2 linked regions of the Homo sapiens genome follow. Each later gene encodes a partner of the first gene's protein in a complex. Each region holds a gene or a part of one and is shown in the gene's direction. Other genes may lie near its edges.

Evidence for each region.
Region 2: NCOA6 (region 1) and KDM6A share a complex: the UniProt entries of both Homo sapiens proteins name them as parts of the MLL2/3 complex.

The regions. Positions count from the first base shown.
Region 1 is NC_000020.11:34,814,360-34,823,379, reverse strand, and holds part of NCOA6 (nuclear receptor coactivator 6), read left to right. Parts: intron 1-1,740; exon of another isoform or gene 1,741-4,078; intron 4,079-9,020. UniProt on the Homo sapiens protein: Nuclear receptor coactivator that directly binds nuclear receptors and stimulates the transcriptional activities in a hormone-dependent fashion. Coactivates expression in an agonist- and AF2-dependent manner.
Region 2 is NC_000023.11:44,867,919-44,877,285, forward strand, and holds the start of KDM6A (lysine-specific demethylase 6A), read left to right. Parts: upstream 1-5,269; 5' UTR 5,270-5,633; coding exon 5,634-5,794; intron 5,795-6,005; coding exon 6,006-6,069; intron 6,070-6,257; exon of another isoform or gene 6,258-6,355; intron 6,356-9,367. UniProt on the Homo sapiens protein: Histone demethylase that specifically demethylates 'Lys-27' of histone H3, thereby playing a central role in histone code. Demethylates trimethylated and dimethylated but not monomethylated H3 'Lys-27'.

The DNA.
Region 1 (9,020 bases):
CTTTTCTTTTCTTTTTTTTCTGTTTGTAGAGTTGGGGTTTCAACATGTTGCCCAGGCTGGTCTTGAAATCCTGAGCTCAAGTGATCTGCCCACCTGAGCCTCCCAAAGTGCTGGGATTACAGGCGTGAGCCACCGCGCCCAGCCTATTCTGGGTTTTTCTAATGCAGGAAGACCTGACCTTATCTGTGCCATGGACCCCTTTCAGAATAATATTTTTTAATTGTATAAAATAAAGTACATTGAATTATAAGGAACACCAATTATATTAAAATACAGTTTCCAAAATATACAAATCTAATATGCATATACTTGTTTATCAGCACGTTAAGAAATCAGATTTAGTGATGGATCCGATAATTATAATTTCAAAGACATGATGCGCATAAAGGCTACTTCAAGATTATATGCAACAATTGTAGTATGATATAAAGATATTTGAGATTTCTGTTGTTACAGAGTCACAGAACTGCTAATACTAGAATGGTATGTTACCTACACTCATATTTGAATAGAATGGTAATTTTCAGTTAAAAGTTAGTAAAAGAGATTTTTTTCTCCCTGTCCAAGTTCACAAGCCCCACTGAAGTCCTATCTATAGACTCCTGTCTATGAACCCCAGGTTAAGAAACCCTACTCCTACTGCCAGGCATGTCTTCCATTCAGCAAACGTTTACTGTGCCTCAAGGCATCTACTGCATATCAAGCATTATACTGGGCTCTGTAGCTTCAGAAGTTTTTAAGGCAGAGTCACTTCACTTTGGGTATGCAGCCCCATGAGTGAAGTAGACATGTGAACAATCATAGTTCAGGATGGTCGATGCCAAAGAAGAGTTATTAAACGCTATAAGGACACGGAGATGGGTGTGTCTGCTCAAAGAATCAGGGAAGGTGTTGCGAAGGGGTGACATTTGAGATGTGTCCTAAAAGATACAGGAATTTGCCAGTGAAATGGAGAGAAGGGCCTTTCAGGTAAAGACACGTTTTCAGGGAATGTATTAATAACTGAATGTGGCTGGAGCATAGAATGTGTGTGAAAGCATGGCCAGAGATGAGACTAGGAAGACCATGTTAGGAACCTGGTTGTGAAGGACCTTGCTAAGGAGTTTGGACTGAATCCTTAGCTGAGAGAGGCATTCAAGATCTTCGAGAAGGGGAGTATGTGGTGGAGGTTTAATTTCTAGGAGATAAATGGATGTTCTTTGGAAGGAGGGTAGACTGAAGACCAGAGAGGTAATGAGGATCTGAACTAAGGCAGAGACTGTGGGCACTGAGCAGAGTTAGAAGTAATGAGGATCTGAACTAAGGCAGAGACTGTGGGCACTGAGCAGAGTTAGAAGTAATGAGGATCTGAACTAAGGCAGAGGCTGTGGGCATTGAGTGGAGTTAGAATTTGCAGGTGTTGATTATTGACATTGTGAGTGGCTTAGGGGGAGTTTTTTAAATTTCTGGTTTGGGGTGGTGTCTGTCAAAGAGGTTTAAAAAAGTGAAAGGAAGTCTGGGCGTGTTGGCTCACGCCTGTAATCCCAGCACTTTGGGAGGCCGAGGCGGGCGGATCACGAGGTCAGGAGATCGAGACCATCCTGGCTAACATGGTGAAACCCCATCTCTACTAAAAATACAAAAAATTAGCCGGGCGTGGTGGCGGGCGCCTGTAGTCGCAGCTACTCGGGAGGCTGAGGCAGGAGAATGGTGTGAACCCGGGAGGCGGAGCTTGCAGTGAGCCGAGATCGCACCACTGCACTCCAGCCCAGGCAACAGAGCGTGACTCCGTCTCAAAAAAAAAAAAAAAAGTGAAAGGAAAATGAGGGGAGAATTCTCATTGATAATAAGGGCGAAAAGGTTTTTTTGGCAGAGTAATAGAGTTTTGGAAACCATTGCAAAGCTGTCAAGTGTGGTGTAGTTTTTGGTTAAGGAAATCAGAGGTGTCAGCAGACATAAAAGACAGGGGAAAACATGGGAAGTGTCCTACCTATAGTGTAGAAAAAGCACAACTATCTATGTCAGAGGTCGACAGACTGTGGTCCATAGGTCAAATCTGGCCCACGATCTGTTTTTGTAAATAACGTTTTATTGGAACATAGCCACACTCATTTATTTATATATTGTCCATATCTTCTTTTGTGGTACCAATAGCAGAGTTGAGTAGTCGTGACAGAGATGTGTTGTGTCAGCTCACAAAGCTGGAAATACTCTTTACAAAAACATTTGCCAACCCCTGATCTATGTGTTTGAGTGTTGGATGTTCAACCTCTAATTTGCCATCCAATGTCTATATGATGATAGAGAATGAATAAACGTCTTGGCTCTGCCCTTTGGGCTGGATTACCCATGCTCTGTGTACCTGCAGCATAACACAGACCCCTGAATATTTATATCAGTCAGTGATGGCAAGGTCTATTGTTCTGGAGTGTACTGTGTGGTAACTGTGGTAGTGCCAGCTTTACACGGATTAGATAATGCTCGGGCTTGTTTTGCCATTTTTTTTATTGGGTTGTCTTTTACAAAAGATTTATTTATATATTCTGATTATTAATCCTTTGTTGTTGGTAGATATTACAGATGTCATTTCCCAGTTTCTTGCTTATTTTAATTTTTTTTTTTTTTTTTTTGAGATGAAGTCTTGCTCTGTCGCCCAGGCTGGAGTGCAGTCGTGCCATCTCAGCTCATTGTAACCTCCGTCTCCCAGGTTCAAGTGATTCTCTTGCCTCAGCCTCCCAAGTAGCTGGGACTACAGGCATGTGCCACCACACCTGGCTGATTTTTGTGTTTTTAGTAGGGATGGGGTTTCATCATGTTGGCCAGGCTGGTCTCAAACTCCTGACCTCAAGTGATCCACCCGTCTTGGCCTCCTAAAGTGCTGGGATTACAGGTGTGAGCCACTGCGCCTGGCCTGTTGCTTATTTTAAAACATCTGTTTTAAGGTGTCATTTGTTAAAAAGTTCTGAATTTTAGTATCAACTTTATCAATCTTTTCCTTTAAGATTTGCAGTTATTCTTTGTTTTGAGGCAGGGTCTCGCTCTGTCACCGAGGCTGGAGTGCAGTGGTGCGATCTCGGCTCACTGCAGCCTCAACCTCCTGGGCTCAAGCAACCCTCCCACCTCCCATGCCAGTTGAGACCACAGGCATGCGCCACCATGCCCTGCTACTTTTTGCATTTTTTGTAGAGGCGGGGTTTCGCCATGTTGCCCAGGCTAGTCTGGAACTCCTGAGCTCAAGCAGTCCACAAAGTGCTGGGATTACAGGTGTGAGCTACTGTGCCCAGCCTGCAATTATTCTTTATATTCTGGAATACCTACTGTTGTTTTCAATGGTTAGATCTTTAATGTATCTGGAATGGATTCTTATGTGTAGTGTAAGGTCGGGTCCAGTTTCATTTTTTTTCCCTATGTATAACCAGTGATCCCAGCATCATTTATTGAATGGGGCTTGCTTTCAAATTGTGAGCTCTTTTTGGTGGAGTCTGTCTCAGGTCCTTATTAAGCACTGCTGCTTGCTGATTGTGTGACCTTGGACAAATAAAACCTCATTGCGCCTCAGTCTTTAAGGATAATAGTAATCTCATAGGGTTTTGTGAGGATTAAATGAGTCAATATACATAACGTGTAAAACAGTGCTTGGCACCTAGAACATGCTCAATAAATATTAGCTGTACTTTAGCACTACTGTTCATTTCTGATTCCTCAGCACCTGGTACAGAGCAGGGGCTCATTTTGCTCAATTAAATTGCCAAATTAATTTGGTTTTCAGGTCAATCAGAATGGTGAGAGTTGGGCTGAGTGTTGCAGGAGATGCTTCCAAGGAGCTACTTAGTTTTAGGGGCTGCCTTAGATTATCTGCTAGGATAGAACTCTTCTCACGCCATCACTTTTGCAGAGAACTTCTGTAGCAGAGGTTGCAAACTGGCAACCTGTGGTTGGATTTGACCTGTATAAGTATTTTGTTTGGTTTACACAATATTTTTAATGTCTTAAAAATGTACACAGACCTCTGAGTTTCTGACTTAACCTTGAAAAATTGGAAGATCTGTCAACAGCAAGCCCATATTCATTTATAGCGGTAACCAGCTGAAACTTTTAGGTGAGATGTGTTTCCTAGTTCTCCATAGTCTGCCTTGCTGTCTTGCTTTGCTCTTTATTTTTATGGCCCTGCAGACATTTAATTTTCTGATTCTTACTTTATTGAGGTATTGAATATTGTCTCCCCCAAACCAGTAAATGACATATTGGGATGGTGGGGGGGATGGCCAGAAATTGACAGATGAGTTTGTGGGCAAGTAAATACTAAAACCTATTTCTAAGGATGAGCCATACTTGATCATAATGAATAGAATGATAAATGAAATTAAAAGATGAGGTGAAATTCAGCTTAGCTCCTTGAATATTTAGGCATCTACTATGTATTAAGTACTGTATTAGAAATTACCACATTGGTGATAGAAAATTAGCTGGCCAGCTTTATGAAATACTGTAGAAGAACTCTTTTTACTTGTATTGTGGAGCTGTTGTCTAAGAGAGTGGTTGGACGAGAAAGGAAATATAGGTATTATTTTCTCAAACATTTGTTGAGCCCTACCATGTATTCTGGAAACTGGCTAGAACTCTGCAAGATACCAAGATGAATCTAGCCAAGGTTTCTATGCTGAGGAATGTCTGTAATGTGTTATGGAGCTGGGATACTAGAGAATGGTACCTGAAAGAGGTGGTCTGTGAACGAAGCTGCCAAGAATAGTTAGTATCTTAATACTTGGAGATGAGACAGTGCTGTATTTTCCAGGCTGAGTGAAAGCATAAACACAGAGGTGGGTATTTAGGAGATGGTAAAGAGTCCACTTTGCTTGGAGAAGAGGATTGTTATAAGGGTGTTGTTGGAATTAAGGGTGGAAATGGAGATGAACAATAGTAACAATAATAGATAAAACCTAAAATAAATAAAACTTAAAAAAATTAATAGTAGTAGTGGCTTTTCTTTCCCCCCAGTGTTCTTTGGGTAGGGTTTTTTTGTTTTGTTTTGTTTTGTTTTTAAATAGAACCAGGGTCTTACTCTGTTGCCCAGGCTGGAGTGCAGTGGCGTGATTATAACTCATTGCAGTCTTTAATTCCTGGGCTCAAGTGATCTCCTGCCTTGGTCTCCCAAATTGCTAGGATTATAGGCACAAGCCATATGCCTGGCCAATGGCTCACATTTTTTGCATGCTTACTATTTGCAAGATAATGTGCTAAGTATTTCATAAGTAGCATTTTATTTAATCCTTACAACAACCTGATGAGGTAGGCACTGGTTTTTAATCCCTTTTTACATATAAAATGAAGAAGAGAGCTAACAATTGATACAGAAAGTATTTGAGTCCAGGTAGTCTAATTTCAAAGCCTGCCTTCCTAATCTCTGCATACCATATAATCAAATCATGGAAGGCTTTGAATACCCATTTCTATTCCAAGCTGGGAAGTTTGAACTTGATTGACTAGGTAGTGGGAAGTCATCAAATGTTTTTCGCCAGTGATGTGATGAAAGCTGTACGTTAGGAAAGGAAGCCTGATTGTGAAGTGTAGGATCAGCATGGGGAGAAAGGAGAGATATGGAGCTAGTTTACTCTCTTACTTCTCACTAGATTGGGTGAGTGCTCCTTTAGGACTGGGCTGGTGTCTGTCTCTGCCTTCCCCCTTCCCTCCCTTCAGCTCCAGTGTCTGCCTATTTTGATGTCTGGTATATTCATTTATTTTTTTAAATGTGATCTTTTTCTACCTCACCTTATTCTAAAAAGGACATAAAGTAGCTGCCTAGGAGCTCAATAAACATTCTGAGTTAATTAGTAAATAACTAGAGTTACATTTAGATGTATACACAAATGAAATACTATGGCTTTGATGGAAGGAGGAATGCAGCCCTAGAGTTGGTCATATGCTTTATTTGATATACAATCTCTATAAAGCAGAAGGCCAGGACCATACCTTTACTTTGTGATGAATTGTGTATTCTATGTCAGTTATAATATTCATTATCAGTTAATAAATTAACTATATCAGTTAATATTAATGAGCACCAAATTCAGAGGGCATTCATACTTTAAACAGATATTTCAGTTTGTATTTAGCATTAACCAGCTGCAACCCCTCCCCCTCCGTCACACACACAAAGGCAACAAAAGTTCCCATTAATCAGCTCCTTTACTGATATTGAATCTGTTGAATATCAGTTCCGTAGTACCCATTTATATACATTTTCTTTTGCTTTTGCTTTTGCTTTTTTGTGTGTGTGTGTGATGGAGTCTCACTCTGTTGCCCAGGCTGGAGTGCAGTGGTGAGATCTTGGCTCATTGCAACCTCCGCCTCCTGGGTTCAAGTGATTCTCCTGTCTCAACCTCCTGAGTAGCTGGGACTACAGGCAACTGCCACCACGCCCAGCTAATTTTTTTGTAGTTTTAGTAGAGATGGGGTTTGACCATATTGGTCAGGCTGGTCTCGAACTCCTGACCTTAGGTGATCCACCTGCCTCGGCCTCCCAAAGTGCTGGGATTACAGGTGTGAGCCACTGCACCCAGCTGCTCTTTTTTGTTTGTTTGTTTGTTTGTTTGTTTTTGGAGACAGCATCTCACTCCCTTGCCCAGGCTGGAGTGCAGTGGTGCAAACTTGGCTCACTGCAACCTCTGCCTCCCAGGTTCAAGTGATTCTCCTGCCTCAGCCTCCCAAATAGCTGGCTCATACCTGTAATCCCAACACTTTAGGAGGCCAAGGTGGGTGGATCACTTGAGTTCAGGAGTTTGAGACCAGCCTGGCCAACATGGTAAAACCCCATCTCTACTAAAAGTACAAAAATTAGCCAGGCGTGCTGGCATGTGCATCTAATCGCACCTACTTGAGAGGCTGAGCCTTCCATCAATTCTTGGTGCTCCTTGGCTTGTAGCTGCATCACTCCATCTTTGCCTCTGTTGTCACATGGCGTTTTCCCTGTATGTCTCTGTGTCCAAATTTCCCTTATAAGGTCACTAGTAGGTCCCACCCTACTCCAGTAGGAGTAACTTCATCTTAATTGATTACCTCTGCAGCGACTCTGTTTCCAAATCAGGTCACATTCTGAGGTACTGAGAGTTAAGACTAACATATTTGGCAGGGATGGGATTGGGGGGCACAAGTCAACACATAACAGGTAGTGTTTGAGATAACATAGAGGCATTAAATTAAAATTTATTAAAATGGAAGGGTAAGATTGCAACAAATGGGATTAAGGAGAGAGTAACCAAAGGAATGATGGACATAGGAAAATGTAAGGAATATTTAGGTAATGAAATAGTGAGAAGTCTGATTTGCTGGTTTGTTGAGGAGTTGTGGAGAAGTGAAGCCGACGTACTTTCTTGGGGCCCTGGATGCCAGGTCTAAGACATTTGAATGTTGCTGAGTGACCAGTGTGTGGGAGCAGGATGGCACTGCGGAATTTTGAAATGGTAGATAATTGATTCAAGCTTTGAGTAACTGAGTCAAGTTTTAGAGACATTCTAATATGATCAGGTGATCATGGATAAGTAAACACCCTGTAGAAAAACAGATGGTCAATGACAACACACCCAGCCTCCCTCATTTTCCTATGCCAGTAACTTTTGCCAGCACAATAAAGAAATCTCTCTTCTGTAAAACAACAAACTTTGAGGGTTTTGTTAGCCCTCTCTTCTTGGTGAGTCATCTGTGGGCATTGAGAGATACATCAGCTTTTCAGGGTCTCCATTCAAAAGCCTCCCCATGGATATTTCAGTGTTAATAGTCATGTCACACTTCATTTGATTTCAAACCATTCTTCAAAATTACCTCTTTTCCATCCTATTCTTTACCTCTTGGTTTTTCTTTGAAACTTCTTCAGTTTTTCCATAATTTAAAAAAATATTGGAAAGAATTGAGGAAAACTGAGTATTGTTTTAAAATAACAAATAGAATTGAGGAAGACTGGGTACTGTCCAGGCTAATGATATGCTCTTTTTCTGTGTCTTTTTATTTTTAAATTATTATTTAAAAAAAAAATAGAGTCTCGCTTTGTCACCCAGGCTGGAGTGCAGTGGTGTGATCATGGCTCACTGCTGCCTCAACCTCCCAGGCTCAAGCGATCCTCTTACCTCAGTCTCCTGAGTGAACACGTGGGACTACAGGTGTTCACCACCTCACCTGGCTTTTTTTTTTTTTGGGGTAGAGAATGGGTCTTCCTATGTTGCCCAGGCCAGTCTCAACCTCCTGGGTTTAAGCGATACTCTTGCCTCCCAAAATGCTGGGATTACAGGCGTGTGCCACTGTGCTCAGCCTGTGTCTTTTTAATGGTAGCAATGTTGGCCTTGCCCAGGATAGTACTGTATTTAAATTGTGAATACTCATTTGAATTGTGGTCAGTAATAGCCCTCAGGTGCTTTCTTTATTTGTGCCCAGGCAGTTCTTCCTGATTTTATATTTGCATTGTTTATACTTTTTCTAATAGCACGTGTCCCCATGAAATTTTAAAAATTATGTTTAAGGCTGTACACTGTGGCTCACACCTGTAATTCCAGCACTTTGCAAGGCCAAGGCGGGTGGATCACCTGAGGTTAGGAGTTCGTGACCAGCCTGGCCAACATGGTGAAACCCCGTCTCTCCTAAAAATACAAAAATTAGCCTGGCGTGGTGGCGTGCGCCTGTAATCCCAGCTACTTGGGAGGCTCAGGCAGGAAAATTGCTTGAACCTGGGAGGCAGAGGTTGCGGTGAGCCAAGATCATGCCGTAGCACTCCAGCCTGGGTGACAAGAGTGAGACTCCGTCTCAAAAAACAAAAAAAAATTATGTTTAAATACCGCAAGTACATAACTTCTGAGTCATTTTCATATTCATACAGTCTTTACAAATTTAATTCATATAAAGGTTTTTTTAGTCTTTTTTCATTTGGCAATATATTGACGTACTTTTCTACACATCTGTATATTTATCATTTTTAATGGATATATGACAACCAAAGTCTAAAATACTCTGGTTATTTGGCATTTGGGTGATTTTCAGTTCGTTTTTATTTATAT
Region 2 (9,367 bases), on another chromosome or scaffold:
TGTATTTTTAGTAGAGACAGGGATTTACCATGTTGGCCAGGCTGGTCTCAATCTCCTGACCTCGGGTGATCCTTCTGCCTGGCCTCCCAAATTGCTGGGATTACAGGCGTGAGCCTCCATGCCTAGCCCTTGTTAGATAATTTAAACATGTGATTCACTTTAGTGTTTGCATCTGTTGACCTTTTCTCATTTGAAATTATCCTGGGTCTTGCTATGATGAGTAATTTTTTTATTGAAACCTGGATATTTTGGGCAGTGTTCTGAGACTCTAGATTTTTTTTTTTTTTTTTTTTTTTTGAGACAGAGCTTCACTCTGTTGCCCAGGCTGGAGTGCAATGGCACAGTCTTGGCTCACTGCAACCTCCGCCTCCGGGGTTCAAGCAATTCTCCTGCCTCAGCCTCCCAAGTAGCTGGGATTATAGGCATGTGCCACCATGCCCAGCTAATTTTTTTTGTATTCAGTAGAGATGAGGTTTTGTCATGTTGGTCAGGCTGGACTCCACCTCCTGACCTCAGCTGATCCACCCGCCTTCGCCTCCCAAAGTGCTGGGATTACAGGCATGAGCCACTGCGCCCGGCCAAGACTCTAGATCTTATTTAAATCTTGTATTTTAGCAGGCCTCCTCTGACATTGCTCTAGTGGGGGCAAAGGGGGCATTCTCTTGTTACTGCCAGGTGTGGGTGGAAGTCCAGCTTTCCCCCTCAATCTTGGTTGACAATGAGTGCAATGTCTCCTTGTTACTGCTTTGTGGGGATGGGAGTTCTCGCTCCCTACCAGGCCTAGATTGAGGCCTCCATTCACCCTAGCTGGGCAGTATAGGAGTCCCTCATTATTGTTCCCTACATTGCTCCCCCTCCACTGATACAATGGGGGGGGTGGTAGTATACCACTGGGCAGTGATGAAAGTTTTGACGACTCTGACATTAATTCAGCAGGGATGGGTACTGACCCCTCACAACTGCTGGGTGGAAGTCCAGGCTGCCTAGTGCAGTTGTGTGTGTGTGTTGGCGGGGGTGGGATGTGAGGTGCCTCATTACAGCCTGGTGAAGGTAGGAGTCCAGGCATCTTCTAGCAGTCCTAACTCTATTCTCACAACTGAAGTTTTCATAACAACTGAAAGTCCATTTATCCTTGGCTCCCTGTCTCTGCTCAAACCTAACCATATATCTATTTCTGTCATTTTTGTGTTCTGGCATCAGCTGGATAGTCTCTATGACAGTGGTAAGTATGGGAAGAACTGGTAAATTTTTTTGAACCTATGTTTGATCGTAACATTTACGTATAGTTCTATTGATAAGACTAGATAAACTATGACTCTGTTATGTGACTTTTTATTATCTGTAAAGGTTATATGGCACTAACATTATAAACACACTAAATATTCCTAAGTGCTTCAGGTTAAATATTTCGTTGTTTAAAAGAAAGTCACATTATTTTCCTATACTTAAATGGGTTCCTTCTCTAATTAGTTGATGGTACTTACATAAATATTAACATAATATTGCTACAAATTATGTACTTAGTCTGTAATCTGACTTAGCTAGATTTTATATAATTTTATAATATTGATTTATCTATACATATATTAGTCGTATTAATTTGCTAAATTCAGATTAAACTTTCCCCAGCTCCTGGTGTATTTAGAATTATGAAAAAGAATCAGTACTAAGTGATATAAGGATGAATGTTCTATTTTCTTTTTTTTTCTGAGATGGAGTCTTGCTCTGTTGCCGAGGCTGGAGTACAATGGCATGATCTTGGCTCACTGCAACCTCTGCTTCCCAGGTTCAAGCGATTCTCCTGCGTGAGCCTCCCAAGTAGCTGGGATTACAGGCATGTGCCACCATGCTTGGCTAAGTTTTGCATTTTTTTAGTAGAGATAGGGTTTCACCATGTTGGCCAGGCTGGTCTGGAGCTACTGACCTCAGGTGATCTGCCCACCTCAGCCTCCCAAAGTGCTGATATTACAGGCGTGAGCCACCGCACCCGGCTTATAAGGCCGAAGTTTAGAATAAATGAGAGATGTAGCAATACTGGGGTTATATGCCTCAAGTATAAAGTACTTAGGACTGCTTATGTGTTGGGCTTATAGTGAGGTTGTGGAGGGAGAAGGAGGAAGTGATGGGTAGAGTAATAATAAATTTAGAACCCAGATTGTGAAAGCAAGAAAAAATTTTGGAAATTCCAGCCTTCCTATTTTATTGAGATTTTTGAATCTATGTGTCTGGCACTTTACCTACCTTATGGCATCTAAAATAATGTTATAAAGTGGCTGTATTTTCTCTTTTTCACAGATGAGAGAACTGAAGCTCAAATTAGACTAACTTGTTGAAGTCTGCCTAGCTATCAAGTGGTAAAGGTAGGATCTGAACCTAGAGCTGTATGATTCCACAATTCATGCTCCTTTGGCTGCACTACTCTGCCTTCCGGTGGGGTTTTCAGATTCACTTTTCATGGAAATTTATTATAAAATCATTTATTGTATGTCCCTATTTCTCTCTCCAGTGAAATATGTAAACCTTATAGGCTCTATATCTATTTTACATACATTTGACAGATAACACACTATGTAACATGTGTATGATGTAAGGACTTATGTTACCATATGAAATTTGTCCCATGCTTGATGATAGATCCTTGTAGTTGTAATAGACATAGAGCACTGGCCTAGAGGATAGGTAATGTTCTCAAGGTCGCACAGCCTGTGTAGAGCAAGGATTCGAATCCAGGTCTGCCTCACTCCAACTCCCACCCATTGCATCCACTCCTTGCTGTTCTGCTATTACATAGTAATAGCGGGAAGAAAAGTGTTGAGGTGTGGAGAGTGGGTAGCCTTTTTTTTCTGAGACGGAGTCTCGCTCTGTCACCCAGGCTGGAGTGCAGTGGCGCGATCTCGGCTCACTGCAAGCTCCGCGCCATTCTCCTGCCTCAGCCTCCCGAGTAGCTGGGACTACAGGCGCCCACTACCACGCCCGGCTAATTTTTTGTATTTTTAGTAGAGACGGGGTTTCACCGTGGTCTCCATCTCCCGACCTCGTGATCCACCTGCCTCGGCCTCCCAAAGTGCTGGGATTACAGGCGTGAGCCAAAGCGCCTGGCTGCCTTTTTTTTTTTTTTTTTTTTTGAGACAGAGCCTCACTCTGTCCCCAGGTTGGAGTGCAGAGGTGCAATCATGGCTCACTGCAACCTCCACCTCCCGGGTTCAAGCGATTCTTCTGCCTCAGTCTCCCGAGTAGCTGGGACTACAGGCGAGCGCCACATGCTCGACTAATTTTGTTTTTTGTATTTTTAGTAGAGGTGGGGTTTCACCACATTGGCCAGGCTGCTCTCCAACTCCTGACCTCGTGATCCGCCCGCCTCGGCCTCCCTTTGCAGGCGTGAGCCACAGAGCCCGGCCGGGATTGAGTAGCCTTATAATCCTTGAAAAGGACCTGAGTCAGGAACTGCTAACTTCAGGGAGATAGTCAAATACCAGCAAAATGTCTATCTGTGCTTGTGCAAGTGTGTGTGTATGTGTGTGTGTGTGTGTGTGTGTATGAGAGAGTGTGCGAGCGAGTTACTGGGGTCAAAATTTCCTTGGCTTTAAATGTCACCATTTGTGACAAAGTTAACAATGTATTAATTTAGCCGTAGAAAAGATTTGGCCCTTTGTACACACTCATTCAAGCAAAATGGAGTATCATAAAGGGAAAGGTGTTTCAGAGGAAGTAATTAAACATGAACTATAATCTATACAAAACTACAGTTTGTTCGTCTAGTTACTAGTCTCAGGGGAACAATTTAAAACTGTGTGCAAAATCAGTTGGGATTCCCATAGCTTCCCGCTGAATACTGGTAGGAATTACTGGGTCAGCACTGAATTGTCTTCGTCATATTTTGAAATCCAAGTTTAAATATATAATTTTTATTGGTTACAGGTGGAAAACCTATTGAAAATATAAAAAACTCCGTTTATAAACAGAATCTTGTCCTTATATGTCTATCAATTTTTTCCTATCCCTGTTATAAGACATACAGCTTAGTAAATAAATTTGCCTTTTGAGAAGAGTAGTCGAAAGGCCTATTTTTTTTTCACCTATAGTAAAGATTAAAAGTCAGACTAAAGCCTTTCCCCTGCACCTGAGAGACAGAACAACAAAATGTTACTGTTGTCTAGGGGTTACAAACCTGCAGGTTTTGGGGGATAGAAAGGATTTCTTGGGCCACCAGCTGTGATGATTTAATTATGTCTTCTCTCAGGTCTGTCCACAAGCAGCCCCTACTTTTGTAAGAAGGCTCCACTGAAATCATGGCAATAGAACCCAACATTCTGCAGATCCCGCTTCACAATTTCTCATTGCTTTTTCTTGTAAGACTGTAATGAACTACTGATAAGACACAGGGTAAACACAGCACGAAAATCTGGCCCCAAAGTGCCGCCAACAGACAGACCTTTGGCGGTGGGGAGCCATGGTCGGCAAGCCAGGCCCCGCGGGCGACTCTTCATTCCCTCCGGCCTGGGGCGTATGGGCGGGGGTCAGGGGAGCCCTTCCCCCTTCACTTTCGGCGCGGGTGAGGTGATCGGGGCTGCCAGCGCAGGTCTGGCCTAGGGCGGCACCCGGACCGCGGGGCACGGGACCGGCAGCCGCTCCCCGAGCGCCCTCCTCGCGGAGGCCATTATTTCCAGCAGTGCCAAAAGTCTGAGCCTTCTTCGGAGGGCAGAGGTCGAGGGCCGTGCGCCGCCTCCCGGCTACGCGACCTGTACCAGGCCCTGTGGGGTCCCGGGACCCCTGGAGCGCGCGCGGGACGGCCGGAGCCGCGGTCTGGGCACATCCCAGAGCTCGCGGGCAGGCAAATGCCGTCCTTGGCGTCTTCGCCCGCCGCTCGCGCCCGCCGCGGGCGGTGCCGGACCTCGCCCTTCCCCACCACTCCCCTCCCCCTCCAGAGCCCGCCGCGGTTCCCGAGGTGACACGGCCCGGACCCTCCATTCTCTGCCCCAGTGTATTTAACCAGCACAACCTAACAGGAAGCTCCCTCTCGGTGACAACCCTTCCCCCGACAGACGCGCCCAGCAGCCAACCACCGGCTAGAATTGGCCTGCGTCCCGCTCCCATCTCGGTGGCGGCCTCGGTGGGCGGGGCTCGGGCAGCTAGCAAGTTAAGTGGAGCCACGGCTGACGTGAGTCAACAAAGGTCACGTGAGGCGTGCGGGCCGCGCCGATTGGTGGCGCCAGCCGGGCGGGGAGGGGGGGTCACGGCGGCGGCGTGGGGTTCGCTGTGTGACACAATTACAACAACTTTGTGCTGGTGCCGGGGAAGTTTGTGTCTCCAACGAATCCCCTCAGTGCTCCCCAGCCCCGCGCGCTCCGGCCGTTCCCGCCGTCCCCGCCTGTGGCTGCCCCCTGCCCAACCCCGCGATGTGACCCTACAGCCGAAAGCCGCCGCTGCCGACCCGGGGGCTCCGCAGCCCCTGCCGCCGCCGCCGCCGCCTTCACCGCCGCCGCGTTGGGATTTTTCGTCGCCGCCGCCCGCGGCGGAGGAGGAGGCGGCGATAAAGTTGGTGTGCTGGTCCCGCGCGCAGATTGGGGGCGTCACTGCGGGCCCCGGTCCGAGGGGGGGTGTCGGCGTTGGAGTTGTGAATTCGCTGCGTTTCCATGAAATCCTGCGGAGTGTCGCTCGCTACCGCCGCCGCTGCCGCCGCCGCTTTCGGTGATGAGGAAAAGAAAATGGCGGCGGGAAAAGCGAGCGGCGAGAGCGAGGAGGCGTCCCCCAGCCTGACAGCCGAGGAGAGGGAGGCGCTCGGCGGACTGGACAGGTACGGGCCGCCGTCACTCGCCCGGTCGGCTCCGGACGGGCAGTAGCCGCTCTCCCGGGAGGACCGAGCGCGGCTTGTCTCTGGCGGCGGCGGGGCGGGCACCTCGGTTTGGCGCTCTTCGCGCCGCCTCCGCTGGGGCCTCGGGCTCGGGCAGGGACGGGTCGGTGGCGTTCCCTGAGCGTTAACGAGTAAACTGTGTCTGTCTCCACAGCCGCCTCTTTGGGTTCGTGAGATTTCATGAAGATGGCGCCAGGACGAAGGCCCTACTGGGCAAGGTAAGGCAGCTGCGAGTCGGAGCGCGGACACCGTCTCCCTGGCCGGCGCCGCGCTCGCCCCGGGCCCCGCGGCCGGGTCTGTGCTCATTGTGGCCACGGACGATGGTCGAGGGGCTTCCGGAAACTATTTCCTGCCTCTGCTCTCCCCCCACCCCCGGGTACCCTGCTTGCTCCCTTGCGAAATCGCTCTTTTCCTCTTGTAGCTGGAGGAACAGAGACGGGATCGCTTTGGGGCCGGGCTCAACTGGGTCGACACAACTGCCTGCTATTTTACAGCTTTTTGAGGGTAGGCCGATGATCTTCGAGGTGCCTGTTTAGGGTCAAGGGATCGTGAGTGTGTTCAGATTTTCCCAAATTTCGGACTTAACTTGCCTCTACGGGTTTAAAAAAATTCTTTTCCTTCAAGCAGGCTGTTCGTGATGCCTACTGCTAACCAAATGTTTTAGGCTTTCTTGTGTCCCCGCTCCCAGAAGGGGGAAGTTTCACGGAGTTTAGGTCGGTGAAGAGTTTGCATTGGGCTGTTGACATGTATCTCGATTGCAGTGTGTGTTACCTGAAGTTAGGTGACTTGTTTACTTTTTGGGTCTTTTTGGCATAGAAATACCGTAGTTATTTGTAAACGTGTTCTCTTCCTGGAGCCTCATTTCCTGTGTGTCTGACAGGGGAGGCTGGGGAGGATTCGGGGTGTAGTCTTTTTTTATTTGTGTGGAAAGTTGTTGGCACTGTCATTTAGTTAAGTAATGGCTGCTCCTATCGGCCCAAGATGGCGGGACAGGGTGGGAGGAGAAAGTGAAGGGGGGGGTTAGGGGGAGGGTGTAGAGGTAAACATGGAAATAAATAGTAGCCGTGAATAAGCCTTTCCTTCGGAGTGTGTAGCTCAGTGGTGTTTAAAAAAAATTACCCAAGATTATTTGCATATAGAATTCTTATACCTTTCATAAGCTTGGAAGCAGCATGCATAAGCCTGGTAAATGCTTATCAACCTGTAGCACATTTAGTTATCCATCTGTAAGCTATTGAACAAAGGCTGGAGTCTCAATCTGTATGCATCAGTTTATATTTCCTGACCAAAATCTGATTGCAATGGTATTTGAATACTTTCTTCGTAATTGGGACCGTGAAAGTTGGAGTGTGTGCTATGGGTGTTGTATCCGTTAGACATTTTCTTTTCTAGCTGAAATCATAGCTTTGCATTTGACACCTAGCTTTATTGTTGCAGTTGAGACGCAAGTTTGAAATAAGTCTAACATTTTATTCTTAAGTTGATTTTTTTGTTGTTCTGAATTTTTGTCTGTAGCTTGGTTTCGCAGAGTCATCAATTCCTTTTTATCTGTAATTACACATTTGTTTTTATTTCAAAGTAATTATAAGGTGTTATATTGCATATAATCAGAAAACTAAATGGAAATAATGCTTTTCAGTAAGCCCGGCCCCTTTGACCGATACAGAAAACTTGAATTAAACTTTGACTACGTAGGTATTAATTGGCTTCATTACAATTATTGCTGTAAAAATGAACAGTGACTAGCTCTGGAAAGATTTAAGCGTCAGTAATTGTTGGTCTCCTGCCTTAAAGTTTTTTTTTTTTTTTCCAATTTGAGTATTTAAAGTATTTTATTTAAAAATATTTGACTGCTGTCAAAGTTGTCATTATAAAAGATTAAACATGATTTAAATTAAAAGAGCATTATTTTGTTTTGGAGGGATTATTGTTGGTCTAACATGGGTTAATAAAATTGCTTGCAAAGATAATTCACGTGGAAAAGTTTGGCCAAATCGATTGCTTTTGGTTATGGTGATGAAAAAATAAATGGAATCTGATGTTTTATGTTGAGAATGTGTAAAATGCTAGTTGATTTTATGTCTTAGAATGCTCATATTCATATAGATTCACTGCGAATAGTGCTTAACATTGGATTTCGGATTGTAATATTAAACCCTGCAGTTATGCACTAACGAGTTTAAATTTTAAAAAAGTAACCATTTTCAAATATTCTTGGCAAGTTGTGCATTACTTGATGTTTGAATACATCTTAAAAATGAAAAACTAGTGAAGCTTCACTATGTTTGGGGCCTTCATGATATATGGGGTAATTTGATGAACGATTAAGCAGTTTGTTAAACTAAAGAAAAAAAAATCTTCACTGCTTCAGACTCAGTGCTTGTGAGGTGTCCTACCTGCTTAGGACAAGATTCATCAGCCTTAACATTAAAATAAAACCTTCTGTAATATGTGCTTGCAACCGCATATAGTTCTTGGTTGCATCTTTGTGAGCCTGAACATACCAGTGGGGTGTGTAATGTAAAGCCTGACATTATATAACTTCGCACCCTCTGTTTGAATTGGGTTCTGAATGAAGTGAATGAGCTGGAGTCCTGCTGTAGGAAGTCTTGAATTATTTAGTTTCATCCTTCTTTTAACAGTCCTCGAAGCAGTATTTTTTTGTTTTTTATTTTTATTTTTTGTGGAATGTTGAGCTATGTTGGTTTCAGAATTCTTATTCCCTGAAAGTCTTAAGAGTTGGCTTTCCTTTACTGGGCAGGTTTAGGCTACTTACCTGAGGGCAGATAATGGAATTGAATAACTCCCAGAATTCCCTTTTTAGCTTTGATTTTTGTCCTGCCATGCCCCCCCACCCCCAACCCCCCGGCCCCAATTTAGTCTGCACTTTGTATAACGTTTTCCTTTCTGGCAGAAATTTAGCTATTACTACTTGTTTTCAAAAATTCTTATTCCTATGTATATTATTGGATTTTCTTTCAAGTTTTTAAAATTCACATTTGTATGTTAAAAAAAACTCTTGACCTAAAAGCTTTAGAAAGTTGAAAGCATTAAATATGTCTCTTACTTGTCCCTTAACATATGTACGTATACATATATACACACGTGTACATATACATATATACACACGTATACATATACGTATACACACATATACATATACGCATATACACACGTATACGTATATACGCACGTATATGAATACGTATATACACGTATACGCATACGTATATACACACGTATACGTGTATACATATATACATGTATATACATACGTATGTATATGCGTATACACATATATGTATATATATGCATATGCGTATGTATACGTATGTACATATCTATATGTGTATTCCTTTTCCAGGTGTGCAGTTTATTCAAACCACTGATTTCTCATCGTCTCCCGAATGTTTTTGTCAGATTCAGTTATATTAGAGTCATTGAAAGAATTTTTTGTTTGTAGGATGGCCATTTGATATACAATGCCTGGGGTTTTGGATTAAAAAAATAAGGTAG